Linked DNA regions of Homo sapiens: region 2 is linked to region 1. The links come from fine-mapping of genetic effects on gene expression. Tissue or cell type: whole blood. Region 1 holds a variant in brackets; the other region holds the start of a gene. All regions are shown on one strand. Distances are between the middles of the regions.

Evidence for each region. PIP is the estimated chance that this variant, and not a neighbour inherited with it, causes the effect.
Region 2: CANX starts here. The variant in region 1 is fine-mapped to the expression of CANX in whole blood (INTERVAL, PIP 0.97).

The regions. Positions count from the first base shown.
Region 1 is chr5:179,750,415-179,758,637 of GRCh38, reverse strand. All of the region lies in intron 1 of MAML1 (mastermind like transcriptional coactivator 1), which reads right to left. Among named protein-coding and RNA genes, the nearest start is that of MAML1, 22 kb to the right of the region's middle. The variant T/C (reference allele first, on the strand shown) is at 4,921.
Region 2 is chr5:179,697,449-179,703,164 of GRCh38, reverse strand. It overlaps CANX (calnexin), which reads right to left and starts at 4,198. Exons shown (of 15, transcript NM_001746.4): 1 at 4,063-4,198. RefSeq lists enhancers at 2,944-3,003, 4,564-5,093 and silencers at 3,814-4,103, 4,144-4,553.

The sequences.
Region 1 (8,223 bases):
CAGGAGGATCACTTGAACCCAGGAGTTCAAGACCAGCCTGGGCAACACAGTGAGACGCCATTTCTAAAAAAAATAAATAATTAGCCAGGCACAGTGGGGCATATCTGTAGTCCCAGCTATTTGGGAGGTTGAGGTGAGAGGAACACTTGAGCCCAGGAGGGAGACTGCGGTGAGCCATGATCGTGCCACTGCACTCCAGCCTAGGGGACAGAGAAAGACCCTATTAAAAAAAAAAAAAAGAAAAGAAAAAGAAAAAAAAATCAGAGAACTGTCTAAACGTTCTAAAATTCCTGCTAGTAAAATTCCCACTTTTAAAGACATTATTTGTCTTACTAGTTTGGAATAGTCACTGATTTAGAATACAAACCACTCAGCATGATAAGAACTAAAGATCCCTATAAGCTCCATTCCTGTCACTGAATCCACTTGTCGAGGACATAGAGAAGGTAAGTTCCAGTTCCGGTATTTTCCAGAAAACTCTGTAGTTTGGTGCCTAAACGTTTTCACATCATCTTTTTAAATTTAAACGTTTTTGAAATAATTATACATTCACAGGAAATTGCAAAGATAGTACAGAGAGGTCCTGTGCACCCTTCACCCAGTTTCTCCCAATGACTGTGTTTTACGTAATTACAGCACAATATCAAACCCAGGAATCTGATATCAGTATAATGCATGTGTATAGTTCTATGTGCATATAACCATCACCTTTTTCGATGGAAAGTTTTTAAAGAGATTTTTTTAAAGCAAAGCTATGTAAGTATTTAACAATACAATCTCTTCCTGCAGGATAAGCAAAGTTAGAATTCACTGAGAAACAAAATTGTTAAATAGATTGATTCTTGTGCTTGGCAGGCAGTCAGTATATTCTCTTCACTAGAGAAAAACCAATTTGGGAAACCAGTGAGGCTCAGAAGGTTGCTTGGTAGACATGAGAACAATGCAGGCGATTGCTAACTGGATGTGTGACGTTAAGACATAACCCATTTAGAACCTGAAGATGGCTGGGTTAGATGATCTAGAGTTCCATTGGCTTTAAAACTCCACATTGCTATACTTCTTTTTTTTTTTGAGAGGAGTCTCACTCTGTCACCCAGGCTGGAGTCCAGTGGCACCATGCCGGCTCACTGCAACCTCCGCCTCCCAGGTTCGAGTGATTCTCCTGCCTCAGCCTCCCGAGTAGCTGGGATGACAGGCACCCGCCACCATGCCTGGCTAATTTTTGTATTTTTAGTAGAGACGGGGTTTCACCATGTTGGTCAGGCTGGTCTTGAACTCCTGACCTCAAGCAGTCTGCCCGCCTTGGCCTCCCAAAGTGCTGGGATTACAGGTGTGAGCAACCTCACTTGACCCACATTGCTATAATTCTAATACCAACTTTTACTCTGAACAAGGAGACGCTCTCAGGGGCTCATAGAGTACTCATTCACCAAAGTCCTCCTATACAGCAGACACTGCTCTGTACAGGCTGTATATAAATTAACAGTAAATAGAGTGCAAGTCATTATTCCAAACTCACAGCCGGGCACAGTGGCTCAGCCTGTAATCCCAGCACTTTGGGAGGCTGCGGGTGGGTGGTTCCTTGAGCTCAGGAGTTCAAGACCAATATGGTAAAAACCCTGTCTCTACTAAAAATACAAAAATTAGCCAGGCGTGGTGGCGCACGCCTGTAATCCCAGCTGGGTTTACTGTAAACCCAGTCCGAGCTGGGTTCTTTGCCTTCCTCCCCAAATCCACACCTTGCTCTCATGCACCCTGTCTCAGTGCATGGGTCAATCCTTGTCCTCTCCGATGACCAGGCATTGAGTTCTGATTCGCCCTTCTAAATCTCTCTCCAGTGAGATACCTCCATACTACGCCCATGTTAGTTCAAGTCATTTTTTATCCTAGATGACAGAAATAACTTCATGCTGACTTCTGTTTCTATTCTCTCTCGGATCTAACACACCCTTTATGATGTTATCCGTGTGACCGCTATAAAACACATATCTGCACCATTTTAAGTGTCTTATTTCCCCATTACTTACAGATAAAGTTCAAACTCCTTAACCTGGCACATAAAGGCCTGTTTGATCTGATTCCCAATTAACTTCTCTGTTGAATTCCCTGCCATTCCCTTGGGGCCCCAACTTAAACTGAATGTCTTTCAGGACTGAGAATATACTTCCAGGCTGGTGACCGCCTAATTTTTTTTTTTTTTTTTGAGACAGAGTCCCGCTCTGTCTGTCGCCCAGGCCCAGGCTGGAGTGCAGTGGCATGATCTCAGCTAACTGCAAGCTCGGCCTCCCAGGTTGACGCCACTCCCCCGCCTCAGCCTCCCGAGCAGCTGGGACCACAGGCGCCCGCCACCACACCCGGCCAATTTTTTGTATTTTTAGTAGAGATGGGGTTTCACCGTGTTAGCCAGGATGGTCTCCATCTCCTGACCTCGTGATCCACCTGCCTCGGCCTCCAAAAGTGCTGGGATTACAGGCATGAGCCACCGCGACCGGCCACCTCCTACTAATGTTTTAAGATTTAGCTCGGGGTGTCCAATCTTTTGGCTTCCCTGGGCCACACTGAAAGAAGAAAAACTGCCAGGCATGGTGGCTCACACCTGTAATCCCAGCACTTTGGGAAGCTGAGGCAGGTGGATCACGAGGTCAGGAGTTCGAGACCAGCCTGGCCAACATGGTGAAACCCTCTCTCTACTAAAAATACAAAAAATTAGCTGGGCGTGGTGGTGGGCTCCTGTAATCTCAGCTACTCGGGAGGCTGAAGGAGGAAAACTGCTTCAACCTGGGAGGTAGAGGTTGCAGTGAGCTGAGATCACGCCATTGCATTCAAGCATGGGTGACAGAATGAGACTCTGTCTTAAAAAAAAAAAAAACTGTCTTGGGCCACAAATAAAATAAGCTAACAATAATAGTAGCTGATGAGCTTAAAAAAAAAAAAAGGTCCATGCATAAATCTCATAGTGTTTTAAGAAAGTTTATGAATTTGTGTTGGGCTGCATTCAAAGCCATCTCGGCCGCAGGCTGGACAAGCTTCATTTAGCTCAAACATCAACTCTGCAGTGTTTTCTCTCCAACCACTTATCCTACTGCTGGTCAAATTCCTTATTCTATCCCTAATGCTCTAACAGTACTTTGTATACAATACTACGTTTCATGTTTGTGGTAAAGCATTTGTGTCGTACTGTACATGTTCACTTTCTCTGCATCTCCTTCCATCCCTGAAGACCAAAGCCTTGCCCTTTTCATCCCCAGGGCCAAGTCTAATGCTCAGCAAATTACAGGTATCCAGTGAAAGTTCACAGTTAACTTTCCCACCTCCCCCACTGCTACAGTCAAGGTCACTCTGTTCTTTGTCTTTTTGTTTCCCAGGCTCGCTCTCTCTGCTCACTAACAGGAAGCAGTACTAGCTCATCACTCAATCTTCACAACAACCTACAGGCTAAGTGCTGTTCGGTTATCCTGAATTTCAAGATAAAGGCACTAAGGCTTGGAGAAGTTATACAACTTGGAATGTGAGTGTGACTGCTGAACCAGGATTTGGACACAGATCTATTTGATTTAAAGCTGTGTCTCAAAGTCCAACTTAGGTGACTCCCTTAAATATGCCTCTCTTTCACCTCAAAACCTTTTAGCGTCTTATCAACTCTTTTCTTTCTCTCTTCTGTAAGAGGGAAGCACTTCTCCTTGCAAAGATTAACTCCCTTCAGCTGCACCTTCTTATTCCCTCTGGACCTGCCTCATCTGAGACTTTCTGTCCTTCAAATTCGTCCCCTCTTCATCTCAAAAATAACTTGAATTTGTTTTGTTCTAGAGCAGTGGTTCTCTAAGTGTGATCCCAGGCCAGTAGCATCAGCATCACCTGGGAATCTATTGGAAATGCAAATTCCCAGGCACTACCCCATACTCACTGAGTCAGAAACTCTAAGCGTGGGGCACAGAAAGTGGTTTTAGTCAGCCCTTCAGGTGATTTTGACAAAGGCCAAGTTTGAGAACCACTGTGGTAGTGGCTTCTTTCAAATATATGCTCAATTTCACATTTTTTTTTTCTTTTTGAGACAGGGTCTTGCTCTATCACTCAGGCTGGAGTGCAGTGGGGTGATCCTAGCTTACTGCAGCCTCCACCTCCCGAGCTCTATCTTCCCACTTCAGTCTCCCCAGTAGCTAGCACTACAGGCATGCGCCACCATACTCAGCTAATTTTTTACTATTCAAATAAATGGGGTCTCATTATGTTTCCCAAGCTGATCTGGAACTCCTGGCCTCAAGCAGCCCTCCTGACTTGGCCTACCAAAAGGCTAGGACTGCAGGCGTGAACCACCATGCCTGCCTTCAATTTCATATTCATTTATTTCTTCTTCTTGAGACAGCGTCTCGCTCTGTTACCCAGGTTGGAGTGCAGTGGCGCAATCTCAGCTAAGTGCAGTCTCCACCTCCCAGGCTCAAGTGATCCTCCCATTGTAGCCTCTTGAGTATCTGAGACTACAGATGGAGCCACCACACCCAGCTAATTTTTGCATTTTTTTAGAGATGGGGTTTCACCATATTACCCAGACTGCTCTCAAACCCCTGGGCTCAAGGGATCCACCCACCTTGACCTCCCAAAGTGCTGAGATTACAGGCGTGAGCCATTGTGCCCAGCCCAATTTTACATTCTAAAACAATCCAAACAAGGCCAGGCAAGGTGGCCCACGCCTGTAATCCCAGCACTTTGGGAGGCCGAGGTGGGTGGATCACTTGAGGTCGGGAGTTCGAGACCAGCTTGACCAACATGGTGAAACGCCATCTCTACTAAAAATAAAAAATTAGCCAGGCACCATGGTGTACACCTGTAGTCCCAGCTAGCTACTTGGGAGACTGAAGCAGGAGAATCACTTGAACCCGGGCCCGGGAGGCGGAGGTTGCAGTGAGCCAGTATCGCACACCA[T/C]TGCACTGCAGCCTGGGCAACAAGGGCGAAACTCTGCCTCAAAAAAAAAAAAAAAAAAAAAAATAATAATAATAATAAAACAACCCAAACAGAAACACTTCTCCCCCCCGATTCATCTCATCCACTACTGTCTTAATCCTTTGCCATTCGCTTTCTTCGAGGCATCAATCACTCGGTGTGTAAGTCCAGAACATGCATGTACTCCTCAAACTCCTTTGACCAAGCTGGACACCCTTATTCCCTTTACAAATAAAACAATTGAATCTACTTGTCCAAATGGATCTGGGAGTTAAGTGCAGCAATTCTATCTTAAGGAGAAAAATTTGAAATATTATCAAACGTAGCACGGAGGGTAATAAAAGTAAAAACGCATTAAAGATGTCAAGATAGACTGGTTTAATTGAGTAGTGAAATCAGAAGGCAGATTGCCAGAGGCCAAAGACAGACAATGTGAATTCAGGACTCCTTCACCCCAGCACGCGCGCGCGCGCGCGCACACACACACACACACACACACACACACACACACACACTAAAAAATAGCATCTAGGATTTAGGTGAGCAAACTGAAATCAGTAATTATAAATACAGTCTTTCCTGTTCCAATGATTGTGAAGTGACAGTGAGATAAGAGTTCCACAGATGGGCCAGGTGCTGTGGTTCACGCCTGTAATCCCAGCACTTTGGGAGGCCAAGACGGGCGGATCACCTGAGGTCAGGAGTTCAAGACCAGCCTGGCCAACATGGTGAAACCCTGTCTCTACTAAAATACAAAAATTAGCTGGGCATGATGGCGGGTGCCTGTAATCCCAGCTACTCAGGAGGCTGAGACTGGAGAATCACTTGAATCTGGAAGATGGTGGTTGCGGTGAGCCGAGATTGCACCACTGCACTCCAGCCTGGGCAGCTGAGTGAGACTCCTTCTCAAAAAAATAAAATAAAATAAATGAGTTCCACAGATGAAAGAGGACATAAAGAGTAATATCCAGAGGCTGAGGCAGGAGAATGGCGTGAACCCGGGAGGCGGAGCTTGTAGTGAGCTGAGATCACGCCACTGCACTCCAGCCTGGGCGACAGAGCGAGATTCCATCTCAAAAAAAAAAAAAAAAAAAAAAAAAAGAGTATCTAATAAAGTGTTAAACTCAACACAGTACAAACGTACTCATTACTCAACAGCACTAATAGAAATATGCCAGCCACAAGTGTGGGCAAAATTTGCTAGTAGCACATAAAAAGAAACAGATGGTGCCAATTTTAATATCATATTTAACCCAATATATATGAACTTTTTAACATATAATCAGTATTTTTTGAGAAAAAATCTTAATATCTTTAATAATGTTATTTAACCATATATATATATATATTTTTTTTTTTTTTTTTTTTTTTTTTGGAGACAGAGTCTAGCTCTGTTGCCAGGCTGGAGTGCAGTGGTGCGATCTCGGCTCACTGCAACCTCCACCTCCCGCGTTCAAGCGATTCTCCTGCCTCAGCCTCTTGAGTGGCTGGGACTACAGGCGTGCGCCACCACACCCAGCTAATTTCTGTATTTTTAGTAGAGAGGGGGTTTCGCTATGTTGGCCAGGATGGTCTTGATCTCTTCACCTCGTGATCCACCCACCTCGGCCTCCCAAAGTGCTGGGATTACAGGTGTGAGCCACCACACTGGGCCTATATTATCTTTTTAACATGTAATCAGTATTTTTTTTTCTTTGAGACAAGGTCTCACTCTATTGCCCACGATGGAGTGCAGTGGTGCAATCACAGCTCACTGCAGCCCTGACCTCCCAGGCTCAGATGATCCTCTCACCTCAGCCTCCCTAGTAGCTGGAACTACAGGTGTACACCACCAAGCCTGGCTAATTTTTTGTAAAGATGGGGTTTTGCCATGCTGCCCAGGCTGGTCTTGAACTCCTGGGCTCAAGTGATCTGCCCAGTTCAGCCTCCCCAAGTGCTGGGATTACAGGCATGAGCTACTGTGCCTGGCCATAATCGGTATTTTTTTCTTTTTTTGAGATGGAGTCTCGCTCTGTCACCCAGGCTGGAGTGCAGTGGCATGATCTTGGCTCACTGCACCCGCTGCCTCCCGGGTTCAAGTGATTCTCCTGCCTCAGCCTCCCGAGTAGCTGGGATTACAGGTGTGCGCCACCATGCCCGGCTAATTTTTGTATTTTTAGTAGAGACGGGCTTTCGCCATGCTGGCCAGGGTGGTCTCGAACTTGACCTCATGATCCGCCCGCCTTGGCCTCCCAAAGTGTTGGGATTACAGGTGACAGCCACTGAAGTGAGTGCACCAAAAAAATCTGTGGTACTAAATTATCAAAATCCAGTGTGCATTTTACACTTTTAGCACAAGTCAAGTTTAACAAGGTGCATTCCACGTGCTTAAGAACCTGACCTGGCTGATGGCTACCCTCATGGACAGTATAACTATAGAAAGTAGCCAGCTGGGCACGGTGGCTCACGCCTGTAATCCCAGCACTTTAGGAGGCCGAGGCGGGTGGATCACCTGAGGTCAGGAGTTTGAGACCAGCCTGACCAATATGGTGAAACCCTGTCTCTACTAAAAATAAAAAATTAGCTACGCATCGTGGTGTGCGCCTGTAGTCCCAGCTACTCGGGAGGCTGAGACAGGAGAATCGCTTGAACCCAGGAGGCAGAGGTTGCAGTGAGCCAAGATCGTGCCACTGCACTCCAGCCTGGTGACAGAGCGAGATTCTGATTTAAAAAAAAGTAGCCTTGAACAACTAAGTTTTCAGGACAGCACTGAAGATAAGGGAAGCCCCCGGGACCTGCCGCCTGGGCCCAGCAGCAGCTCCTTACTGCACAAAGGGCTCCATACAGCAGGCACTGTGGCTCTGTGCCAGCTGCCTCCTTGCTGGGAATCGTCATCCTTGCCCACCTTTCTCTTTCTAGCAAACTCTTCCTCATCATCTCATTCAATTTATCCAATAAGAATCTACTGAGAGCCGTCAGGCCTGTAATCCCAGCACTTTGGGAGTCCCAGGCAAGCGGATTGCTTTGCACTCAGGAGTTCGAGACCAGCCTGGGGAACACGGCAAGACCCCACCTCTACAAAAAATACAATAATTAGCCGGACATGGTGGCTCATACCTGTAATCCCAGCTACTAAGGACACTGAAGCAGGAGAATAGCTTGAGCCCGGGAAGCAGAAGTTGCAGTGAGCCTAGATCGGGCCACTGTACTCCTGCCTGGGAGTCAAGAGACCCTGTCTTAAAACAAAAACAAAAAAATCTATTGAGAGCTGACTGAGCCAGCCACTCTCTGGGCCCTAGGGATACA
Region 2 (5,716 bases), 54 kb after region 1:
AAGGCAGGCAGATCATCTGAGGTCAGGAATTCGAGACCAGCCTGGCCAACATGGCAAAACCCTGTCTCTACTAAAAATACAAAAATTAGCTGGGCAGGCTGGGCGTGGTGGCTCACACCTGTAATCACAGCACTTTGGGAGGCCGAGGCAGGTGGATCACCTGAGTTCGGGAGTTCAAGACCAGCCTGACCACCACGGAGAAACCCTGTCTCTACTAAAAACACAAAATTAGCTGGGTGTGGTGGCAGATGCCTGTAATCCCAGTTACTCAGGAGGCTGAGGCAGGAGAATAGCTTGAACCCGGGAAGTGGAGTTTGCAGTGTGAGTTGAAATCACGCCACTGCACTGCAGCCTGGCCAACAAGAGTGAGACTGTCTCAAAAAAATAAAAAATAAAGTGAGCTGTAATGGCACCACTGCATTCAAGCCTGGGCAACAGAGTAAGACTGCCTTAAACAAACAAACAAACAAACAGAAAAAGAAGGCAGAGTTTCAGAGATATTTGCAGACCCGTGTTCATAGCAGTACTACTCACAACAGCCAACAGTCAGAAGCAACCCAAGTGTCCATCAATGGATGAATGATTAAACCATATGTGGCATAGGCATACAATGGAATACTATTCAATCTCAAAAAGGAAGGAAATCCCATCACCGGCTATAACATGGATGAACTTTGAAGACAATATGGTAAGTAAAATAAGCAATTCACAAACAGATACCACAAAGTTTTAAAAAAGAAGGAAGGAAGGAAAGGAGGGAGGGAGGGAGGGAAGAAGGGAGAGAAAGAAAGCTGAGCTTAATTTCTGGTCTCCTGGTTGGCATCGTGGCTCGCGCGTGTAATCCCAGAACTCTGGGAGTTGGAGGAAGCAGGATGATCGCTTGAGCTCAGGAGTTCGAGACCAGCCTGGGCAACAAAGCGAAGTATCTATGAAAAATTAGGAAAAAAAAAAAAATTAGCTGAGTGTAGCGTCATCCGCCTGTGGATCCAGCTACTCAGGAGACTGAGGCAGGAAGATCACTTGAACCAATAACAGCAGGAGTTTGAGACTGCAGTGAGCAATAACCACGCCACTGCACTCCAGCCTGATGAAGAGCAAGACCCTGTCTCTAAAAAAATAAGTAAGGCTGAGCGCGGTGGCTCACACCTGTAATCCCAGCACTTTGGGAGGCCGAGGTGGGCGGACTGCCTGAGCTCAGGAGTTCGCAACCAGCCTGGACAACCCGGTGAAACCCCGTCTCTACTAAAATACAAAAAACCGGGCCGGGTGTGGTGGTGGGCACCTGTAGTCCCAGCTACTTGGGAGGCTGAGGCAGGAGAATTGCTTGAACCCAGGAGGCGGAGGTTGCAGTGAGCCAAGATCACACCACTGTACTCCAGCCTGAGAGGGAGACTCCGTCTCAAAAAAAAAAAAAAAAAAAAAAAAAAAGTACATCTGTTGGAGTAACAAAGAATTCAACCAGGACTTTCCTGAAAAGTTTTACCAAAAGCTGTATAGGTTTTAACTGTTTAGGTACTTTTATTATTTCCTAGGAGTTATTATAAACGGCGTATTCTATTTGCACAGTTCATTACACTTTTTTTTTTGTTTTTCCTGAGATGGAGTCTCACTCTGTCACCCAGGCTGGAGTGCAATGGAACCATCTCCGCTCACTGCAACCTCCGCCTTCCAGGTTTAGTGATTCTCCTGCCTCAGCCTCCCGAGTAGCTGGAGGTTAATTTTCTGTATTTTTAGTAGAGACAGGGTTTCACCATTTTGGCGAGGCTGGTTACCAACTCCTGGCCTCAAGTAATCCGCCCACCTCAGCCTCCCAAAGTGCTCGAACTACAGGCGTGAGAGCCACCGTGCCCAGCCAATTCATTACACTTTTTAAAGTAGTTTCATGTTCACCATTTTATCTGCCCCTCCCAATTGCCCCCTAAAGGTGAGGAACCCAGGAGACTTCTCATTCCTATTTTGAAGTTACGGAAACCAAAGTGGGACAAAAGCTACCACACTGGGCCGGGCGCAGTGGCTCACGCCTGTAATCCCAGCATTTTGGGAGGCCGAGGTGGGCGGATCACGAGGTCAGGAGATTGAGACCATCCTGGCTAACACGGTGAAACCCCGTCTCTACTAAAAATACAAAAACAAAATTAGCCGGGCGTGGTGGCGGGCACCTGTAGTCCCAGCTACAAGGGAGGCTGAGGCAGGAGAATGGCGTGAACCCGGGAGGCGGAGCTTGCAGTGAGCCGAGATCGCGCCACTGCACTCCAGCCTGAGTGACAGAGCGAGACTCCGTCTAAAAAAAAAAAAAAAAGGTTACCACACTGGGCACACAATTCAAGTTTCATGAGCCTGCAATTCATGCTCACCAACTGCCACTTCATCCCCTTAAGCTGTCTTCCAGGGCAAAGAGAACTCTAACTAAAAGGATGCAATAGTGTGATTGCCAAAACGGCAGCAACGACTTCTGTCAAAACACTTATCCCTTGTGGCCCTGAGAAGATAATGCGCTAAATGAACTGGGGAGTAAGGATAGTAAGGTGTCGGGGAATGCTGACAGCCATTTGCAGATAAGTCAGAAAATTTCTGTTGTGCAACACTGACCCCCACACACAGTTCACTCGAGCATTCTCATGATCCAGTTACCTGGCTTGTGTGTGCACCCTGGCTGATGCACAGGAGAACTCCCACATAGTCCTTTACCTCTGCTCTAAGTATAATTATACCAAATGTACAACAGTTGATCCATATGGCAGTTGCTTCTATTCATGACCCTCAAACAATGTTGGGAAAAGACTGAGATACAGAATGATTTTAAAGATCAATAAAATTCTTCCCCCTTAAAAAAATCTACTTATTAAAAAATTAAGCAAAATCTTCCATTTCCTAAATCAGAGGTAAAAAGACTTAACTATGGTTAATCTTGTCCTCTCAATCTTTTAATATTAAGCTCAGTTTAACTTCCCTCAACCAGCAATCACTTGTGTCATGCCCAGCGGTAATACACAATGCCCGGTTTCTTCTATCACCATAACTGTGACCTCAGGTCCTGCGAAACAGGACTGAACCAGTTCACTAGGATGGCAGTGTATTGGTCCAAAGGCATTCAGATTATAATAACGTACCGCAATGATCATCGAGCAGTTACTAAATGTCGGACTTCCCTGTCTTATTGTATACATATCTTAATTTAATCCTCACAAATCCATCGGGTATTATTATATCCATTACTTGACAAGAACGGGGGCACAAAGGGTAAGAAAACTGCCGAAGTTCACAGAGCAACCAATGACCAATCAAAGACTCGAGCCAGGGCCTTAGCGTTAACCACTGCACGGTCTATCCCTGAACTATAATCCCAGCACCATCAGTACACTAATCGCATGACCTTGGGCCAGTCATTTCATACCTCCAGGCCTCCGGTGTGGAAAGAGATGCACTTAGATGAGCTTTCGGGGGCTTTCCTGCTTTTAACGCCCTGTCCCTCTCCAACTGGATTACTCGCCTCCAGAATAGGTGCTGTAACTGCTAAGTTTCTCAACCACTGCGTGTTCTCCTTCTGGTACATTCCCCTTTCTCTTCAGGGAACTAGGGTCCAGTCTCCGCTTTGGATTTTCAAATATTAAACTGTAACGCTAGTTGTAAACATTCCCTCTCGGTCTAATACCACCCTTCCCTACTACTAGGGGTACCTAGTAGGCCCGATTCCACCCTATACTTTTACCCAGTTACTCCAGCCCACCTCGCGGCTGCCCAGGCAGCCGGCAAAGAGGCCTAAGAAAGCCCTAGAAGCAAAGCCATAGGAATAAGTCAGCTTTCCCAGAGGTCAAAGAAGGCTGTCGGGCCACCTGCCACGCCTCCCGACCCCGGCGGCGCGGCCTGGGCCCGCAACCCAACCAAAGACGCCCGGATTCGGGCCTCCTCGCTCACGGCGGGCGCGTCGGCCAGGGCCTGGGCCCTCAAGAGCCAGCCCGACCCCTCAGTCGCCGGCCACGCCCGACCCCTCAGCCGCAGAGGCGCTCCCAGCCCCCCGAGGTCCTCACAGGCCCGAGGACGCGCTCAGGTCTCCCCTCTCACCTCTAGCCTCCCGGGGACCGCGGGGGTGCCCGTGCCCCTTCCCGCCCGCACACCTTGCCCCGCGCCGCAGTAAAGAGAGAGGCGGAGGCGGCCCGACCGTCACGTGCCGCAGAACCAAGAGGCCTCGGCCACCGCTGCCGCGCGAGCGAGCCCCACCGCACGAAGCCCGGCCCTGTGCCCGCCCCTGGCCCCTGAGTAGCCACAGCCGGCGCCAAGTCCCGCCCTCCCGCGCAAGCCCCGACATCCGGTTGGCCGGCGTGGGCATCGCTCTACGCACCGTCCCATACGCCCCCTACGGCTATTCTTCGTGGAGTGTGAAGATTGGCCGGGAGTGAGGCAGGAAGTGGCTGTTGGTTGGGCGGGAGGTGAGGGGCGGGCCACGCTGGATCGAGACCGCCGGGCGCGCGCGTCTCGGGGCGGGGCTGGTTTAACAGGCGTTCCCGCGTCGGTTGCTGTGGTGCCTTCGGGGCGTTCCAACCCAACCCCCAGTAGCCCTCACCCGTCTGGTTCCTGGAGCCGAGACTTGGGACGCATCGCGCGCCCTTCGCTGACGGGGCAAACGGCAGCCGGCAAAAGGGGTAGGAGTCCGACGATCGGCCATCAGGAAGGGCCCGTTGCAGCGAACGCGGGCCCCTACGGGCGTGAGCAGAACCCAGCGCGAGCGCCTGGCCGGATTGGCGTGCACTGCTCCGCGCTGTGTGAGCCGGCGCCGCAGTTCCTGCAGAGTCATGGCTCGGCCCAGGAGCCTGCGCAGCCTCGTCGCCCAGCATAACACACAGTCCAGAATAATATAATCCGAGGTTATTTGAACTTTCAATTTATGTTTCCTGAAGTGAGATTAGGTGTCAGGGCAGAGAGATACAGGGATGACAGGACGAGAGAAAGGATGGTGCCATGGAAAGATTTAAGATACGCCACCATTTTAGTAACCCACTCTTAGTACATCTTCAGTTTTCAGTATGCTGAGAACCTCACAAAATGGAAGTGGCCCAGGGTTTTTCTAGACCTTTAGAGATCCTGATCTCTTGTTCTCTATTTGTTTGGACACCCAAAGGCTTGACTACTAGGGTGGAAAACACTAGAATCAGCGAATGTATCACTGATCTGAAAAGCCCTCTTGCCACCGGGAAGGGGAAGAAAGGCAGGGTTTGGTGTTTGCATGAGTTAGTATCATCCAACCCTCAACCCCCAAATTTTTTTTATTTTTATTTTTTTGAGACGAAGTCTTGCTCTGTCGCTCAGGCTGGAGTCTAGTGGTGCGATCTTAGCTCACTACAACCTCCGCCTCCCGGGTTCAAGCGATTCTCCCTCAGCCTCCCGAGTAGCTGGGATTACAGGCGCCCGCCACCACGCCCGGCTAATTTTTGTATTTTAGTAGAGACAGGTTTCACCATGTTGGCCAGGCTGACCTCAGGTGATCGACCTGCCTCTGCCTCCCACAGTGCTGGGATTACAGGCGTGAGCCACGGCGCCCCAACTTCAGCCCCAAAATTTGTGTAGGAGAATTTTGGTTTCCTGTCTACCTGGGGAAGCAGCTATTCAAAGCAGAATAAAATTCTGGATGCTACATGATCCAAATAATGAGCTTAAAATGTAGTTACAGGAAGTACATTTGTGAGCAAAAGAGCTACTCCTGCAAAGGTAAGTGCCAAAA